2 linked regions of the Homo sapiens genome follow. The protein of the gene in region 1 purifies or fractionates together with the protein of each later gene. This does not show direct contact. Each region holds a gene or a part of one and is shown in the gene's direction. Other genes may lie near its edges.

Region 1 (3,500 bases):
TTTAGACAGCGTGCACATCTTATTCGACATCACAAACTTCACACCGGTGAGAAACCCTATGAATGTAAGGAGTGTGGGAAGGCCTTTACAGTGCTCCAAGAACTTACTCAACATCAGAGACTTCATACGGGTGAAAAACCCTATGAATGTAAGGAATGTGGAAAGGCCTTTAGAGTACATCAGCAACTGGCTCGACATCAGAGAATTCACACTGGTGAGAAACCCTATGAATGTAAGGACTGTGGAAAGACCTTTAGACAGTGTACACACCTTACACGCCATCAGAGACTTCATACTGCTGAAAAGCTCTATGAATGTAAGGAATGTGGGAAAGCCTTCGTATGTGGTCCAGACCTTAGAGTACATCAGAAAATTCATTTTGGTGAGAAACCCTATGAATGTAAGGAGTGTGGAAAGGCTTTTAGAATATGCCAACAACTTACTGTTCATCAGAGTATTCATACTGGTGAGAAACCCTACGAATGTAAGGAATGTGGGAAGACTTTTAGATTAAGACAACAACTAGTTCGCCATCAGAGAATACATACTCGTGAGAAACCCTATGAATGTATGGAATGTTGGAAGACCTTTAGTAGTTACTCACAGCTTATTTCACACCAGAGCATTCATATTGGTGAGAGACCCTATGAATGTGAAGAGTGTGGAAAGGCCTTTAGACTGCTCTCACAACTTACTCAGCATCAAAGTATTCACACTGGTGAGAAACCTTATGAATGTAAGGAATGTAGAAAACCTTTTAGACTGCTCTCACAACTTACCCAACATCAGAGTATTCACACTGGTGAGAAACCTTATGAATGTAAGGAATGTGGTAAGGCTTTTAGACTTTATTCATTTCTTACTCAACACCAGAGAATTCATACTGGTGAGAAGCCCTACAAGTGTAAGGAGTGTAAGAAGGCCTTTAGACAGCATTCACACCTTACTCAGCATCAGAAGATTCATAATGGAATTTAATAGAAGAAAGCCTTCAAATGTATATGATGTTACAGAACATCAGAAAATTCATTTTTGAGAAAATGTGTTTCATGCTCAATTCCAAGCATAATAAATTTTATATTAGAGAAAGAATATGTTGATTTAAAAGCCTTCCAACACCATTTAAACATGGTTTATCTTCAGCAAATTCCTATGAGAGAATAATGTAATGAATGTAGGAAAATCTTTAGCCTTATCTGTCATTATCTCCCTTTCTCCACTTGATTACCAGTTTGATTTATTGGACAAGATACTAAGCTTCTGTGCCTCATTTTGCTGACTTGTAAAATGGTAATAATAGTACTTATATGTATTAGTTATTTATTGCTGCGTAATAAATTACCACAGACTTAGTAGCATAAAATAACATATAATTATATCTTATAATTTGGATCAGGAGTATAGGCATGACTTAGTTGGGTCCTCTGCTTCAGGGTCTCTTGCAAGGCTACAGATTTCAGCCAGGGCTGAGGTCTCATCTGAAGGCTCAACTGGGGAAGGATCCACATCCAGACTAACATAGTTGTTACCCAATGTATTTCCGTGAGGCCTGTTGCATTGAGATTCTCAGTTTCTAGCTGGCTGTTGGCTGAACGCTGACTGCAGCTCCTGGCCACAATAGCCTCATCAACATGGCTGCTTGCTTCATCAAGGCATGCAAGCCAAAAGGGAGGACAGTCTGCTAGCAAGATGGAAGTTACCATCTTGTGTAATCTAATCATGGAAGTAACATTCCCTCACCTTCTACTGGTAGAAGTAAGTTACTAGGATAGTCCACACTCAAGAGAACGGGATGATACAAGAGTGTGAATAAGTCCTGGAGACAGGACCACTGGGGGGCCTGTTTAGAGTCAGCCTGCCACACTGTGGAATAGGATTGTTGCAAGGAGTAAGTAGTTAATACTTGGAGGAATCACAGTCATATAGCATGTATTCTGTAAATATTATCTGTAATTGTTATTATTGTCATTAGTATTAGTGAATTCACGTAAAAGGAAGATCTGTAGACATAATAAATGTAGAAATGCCTCCTGTCACCTCTCAGAAATTATTAAACATAATTTATTCTAGGTAAAATTTAGATTGTAGTGAATGTAGGAAGTTCTTCAGCACTTGAGCTGCATTAGAAATTTCATGCCAAAAATGAATTTCATGAATGTGAGGTCACTAGTAATACAGCTGTTGAAGAATTAGAGGGAAATAGGAAATGATTTTCCCATAATTCCAGAAAGCAAAAGGCTTACAATCCCTGTTGTCTGACCACAGTTTAAAATTAATTAGAAACTATCAAAAATGTGGCTTAAAAGAAATTAACCACCTAGGAATTTAATATTGTTGTGTATATTTATGTGTGTGTATAAAACTCCTGTGGGAAAGAAACAAAACATCATTCTATAAGTCAGTATACTTTTGGATGCTCAAAATGCCATATCTTCAACCAGTAGGAGTTGTTTCAAGTTGAGTTTTTGATGTGATCCCACCAATAATTTGATAGTTTACTTGATTGTGGCTGCATAATTTGGTAACCTATGAAAGATGCTAGAGCACCAATGTATAATTTTTTTGAGACAGGGTGTCACTTTGTCCCCCAGGCTGGAGTGCAGTGGTACAAGCACAGTTCACTGTACCCTGTTCCTCCTGGGCTCAAGTGATTCTTCCACCTAAATTTTTTTTTTTTTTTTAGAGAAAGGGTCTCACTATGTTGCCCAGGCTGGTCTTGAACTTCTGGGCTCAAGTGATCCTCCCTCCTTGGCCTCCAAAGGTGCTGGGGTTACAGGTATGAGCCACCACACCCAGCCCAACTCATTATTCTTGAAATCAATAAATCAGAGGAAAAATTGTCATTTAGTTTCCTTTTCCCATGTGAACCAAATTTCAGGGTCACCAGAAGTTCATCAAATTCAAATGAATTTGGCCTGGCACAGGGGTCACACCTGTAATCCCAGCACTTTGGGAGGACAAGGTGGGTGGATCACTTGAGGCCAGGAGTTTGAGACCAACCTGGTTAACATGGTGAAACCCTGTCTGTACTAAAAATACAAAATTTAGCCAGGCATGGTGGCACACACCTGTAGTCCCAGGCTGAGGTGGGAGGATCACTTGAACCCAAGAGGCAGAGTTTGCAGTGAGCTGAGATCGTGCCACTGCACTCCAGCCTGGGTGACAGAGTGAGACCCTGTCTCAAAAAAAAAATTTGTTTTTTGAATGGGTTTTTCTTTTTTGAAGAAGTCTAATAAATCTAGAAGGAATTAGAGGATTAGAAAAATCACCATTTTCTAGACCTTAATGGAATAATGGGTCCAGAAAACATGATCTTCAATGGGTACTACAACTAATAGGTGAAATATTTTATAGCGAGATTTTTATGGTGGATCTATCAAACTGGCCACCTCTGAACCCTTTGATCTGTTTTAACCTTAATAAAAATGGGTCTATCAGACAACACACTTCCTGACGTAATGCAATAGGAAGTCCACACCACCATCTACAAAGCCTTATTG
Region 2 (3,500 bases), about 21 Mb from region 1:
ATTAGCATCAGTCATAGTCTGTAGGAGCACTGGTTTCTGATAGAGGTAGAAGTTTTCCTTACTTGGCACTAACTCATTTTATTTTATTTCATTTATTTATTTATTTTGAGATGGAGTCTTGCTCTATTACCCAGGCTTGAGTGCAGTGGCACGATCTCCACTCACTGCAATCTCCGCCTCCTGGGTTTAAGCAGTTCTTCTGCCTCACCCTCCCAAGAACCTGGGATTACAGGCAGGTGCCACCACACCCAGCTAATTTTGGGGTTTTGTTTGTTTGTTTTGAGACGGAGTCTTGCTCTGTCGCCTAGGCTGGAATGCAGTGGCATGATTTTGGCTCACTGCAACCTCTGCCTCCTGGGTTCAAGCGATTCTCCTGCCTCAGCCTCCTGCGCAGCTGGGACTACAGGCACACACCACCACGCCCAGCTAATTTTTGTATTTTTAGTAGAGACAGGGTTTCACCATATTGGCCAGGCTGATCTCGAACTCCTAACCTCGTGATCCACCTGCCTCGGCCGCCCAAAGTGCTGGGATTACAGGCGTGAGCCACTGTGCCCTGTAATTTTTGTATTTTTAGTAGCTAATTTTTGTATTTTTAGTAGAGATGGGGTTTCACCATGTTGGCCAGGCTGGTCTTGAACTCCTGGCCTCAACCAGTCCACCCCCCCTTGGCCTCCCAAAGTACTGTGAGTACAGGCATGAGCCACTGCATCCAGCCCTAATTCATTTTATGTTGAGAAATAGTTTGAAAGTTGAGAAGATAGGAAATTTTATGTATATATAATAATACTTATTTCCATATGACCATGCCACCCCAAATAATTACTTTTAAGAAATAATTGTTTTTTGTTTTTGTTTTTGTTTTGAGACAGGGTCTTGCTCTGTCACCCAGGCTGGAATGCAGTGGCGCAATCATAGCTCACTGCAGCCTTGACCTTCTGGGCTCAAGTGACACTCCCACCTCAGCCTCCCAAGTAGCTAGGACTACAGGCACATGCTGCCACAGCTGGCTTTTTTTTTTTTTTGTAGAGACAGGGTTTCACCCTGTTGCCCAGGCTGGTCATCTTGGCCTCCCAAAGTGTTGGGATTACAGGCATGAGCCACTGCCCGGCCCAGAAATAATTGTTATAATTGTTATACACACTTTTTAATGGGAAAACCAAAATAAAAAGCAGTTTCTGTTTCAGATTTAGAACAGGGAGGGGGGTATTATTTGCTTTAACATGGTTTTGAAGCTAACCTCCATCCTTGTTTGAATTCCAAGTGGCTCACCCTTCAGGGATTTGAATAGTTTCCTCATTTAACAGAATGATAACTTGGGTGTTCATTTCTCAAAATAGGCTACTGGCTTAAATGTTTAAAAATTTTTATTTGGGGCCAGGCTCTGTGGCTCACACCTGTAATCCCAGCACTTTGGGAGGTTCAGGAGGGTGGATTGCTTAAGCCTAGGAATTAAAGACCAGCCAGGGCAACATGATGAAACCCCATCTCTACAAAAAAGTATAAAAATTAGCTGCGAATGATGGCACGAACGTATAGTCTCAGCTACTTGGGAGGCTGAGGCAGGAGGATTGTTTGAGCCTGGAAGGTCGAGGTTGCAGTGAGCCGTGATCATGCCACTGCGTTGCAGCCCGGACAGAGTGAGACCTTGTTTTTAAAAAGTAAATAAATAATTTTTTAATCTAGTCCTCCTGGTATAGCAAGTTAAACATAGCCTGCCTTTCCATTGGGTAATATTTTCTGACGGTCTAATTAAACTGTGGAATCTAGAGGTTTTGGTGGCTTTTCGTTGAGAGAAGGGCCTGCTGGCAATCCTATACCAAAGGTTAGGTAGTCTCAGGTCATTTCCCTGTGACTTGCTTGTGGAAATTAACCCCACTGTCTTTATGTTTAGGCTTTGTCCAGGGATCTGAAACCACTTTGCAGTCGACATACTCGGATACCAGCGCTCAGCCCACCTGTGATTATGGTAAGTGTGGACTTCTGGTGGGAACCAAAGTGTTCTGCAGAGCAGTTCCTTGTCTTCTTAGTTGCCTTTGGCTTTGCTGTCACCCTGTCATGCTTTTTTAAACCTAAACTTGTGTGAAATGGTGTGGCCATTTGAATAGCTAGTGCTTCCCTTTCAGGCAATTATGGGAAAAGTAGCTGTGTTCCTGAGCAAGTTAGGCTCTTTGATAAAAGGCCTGGCTTCAAATCCCCATGGGGGAGGGACTGGGAGTCACAGTGGCCAATTAAAGTCCAAAGGAGGCCAGGCGCGGTGGCTCCTGCCTGTAATCCCAGCACTTTGGGAGGCCGAGGCGGGTGGATCACTTGAGGTCAGGAGATCGAGACCATCCTGGCCAACATGGTGAAATGCCATCTATACTAAAATACAAAAAATTAGCCGGGCATGGTGGTGTGTGCCTGTGGTCGCAGCTACTCAGGAGGCTGAGGCAGGGGAATCACTTGAACCCGGGAGGCAGAGGTTACAGTGAGCCGATATCATGCCACTGCACTCCAGCCTGGCAACAGAGCAAGACTCTGTCTCAAAAAAAAAAAAGTCCAAAGGATTGGTCCAGGAGAAAGCAAGCTATTAACTTAGTCCCAGCATAGTGCATGTCCTTGCTGTGGGAGAGAGGCTGAGTGTGTGAATCTGGCAGCTTTTGGAGACTCAGCCAGGCCACCTCAAGCCAGCAGGCTCCACACACACAGAGTTGAGTGAAGATCTCTGATTGAGTTTTCCAGCGTGGACAGAAACACCTAATTAGCTAATTCAGAAGTAGCCACCAGTAGGATTCACAGATGCTGTTTTGTTTGTGTGCTGTGGCAGCCCGGACTGCTGTTAAAGCTGGTTTTTGGTTGTCTGTGACTCTAGGGGTATCTGTTGAGAAGGAGCCCTCTTTGGAATTAACAGGGATAATGTCTTAGTTACTGAGATGGGTAATTTCTTTTACTACCAAGATCTGGGGAAAGACTGATCCTACACAGCTAACATGCCTTCAGGGGTCACTGCATAAAGAGACTTAAGTAAGCTCCCCAAGTAACAGCAGCTAGTCCCAGGAAAAGGGAAGACTTAAAATATTTTGAAATTGAGTGAGAAGGTATCAGGTGTCTCATAAATGAGGAGAAACTTGGTTTGCTTGACTTCCCTGTGCTGCCCTCCCTGCCTCTCCCTTTTCATCAAATGTAGTCCCTAATTGCACATCCTTTTGAATTATTTTCCCTCTGGATTGCATATTCTGAGTACAAGCCATTTCTCGGATATGCCATTTACAAATATTTTCTCCCAGACTGTGGCTTGTCTATTCTCTTGTCAGTGTGTCTTGTCTTGTGTCAGAAAGAACACAAGTTGTTAATTTTGAAGCCCAATTCAATCTTTTCTTTAATAGATGATGGTTTTGCTTTTATATCTAAGAAATCTGTAATATTTTCTTTAGAATTTTCTTTTAGGTGTTTTAGTTGTGGGTTTTACATTTAGTCTGTGATCCATATTGAGTTAATTTTTCTACAAGGTGTGCAGT

Evidence for each region. Proteins that work in one complex are often made in the same cells at the same time.
Region 2: the proteins of ZFP14 (region 1) and AKAP8L purify together in Homo sapiens (co-immunoprecipitation; one large-scale study listed by IntAct). This does not show direct contact.

What each region holds. Positions count from the first base shown.
Region 1 is NC_000019.10:36,337,702-36,341,201, reverse strand, and holds part of ZFP14 (zinc finger protein 14 homolog), read left to right. Parts: coding exon 1-978; 3' UTR 979-3,500. UniProt on the Homo sapiens protein: May be involved in transcriptional regulation.
Region 2 is NC_000019.10:15,408,989-15,412,488, reverse strand, and holds part of AKAP8L (A-kinase anchor protein 8-like), read left to right. Parts: intron 1-1,894; coding exon 1,895-1,969; intron 1,970-3,500. UniProt on the Homo sapiens protein: Could play a role in constitutive transport element (CTE)-mediated gene expression by association with DHX9. Increases CTE-dependent nuclear unspliced mRNA export.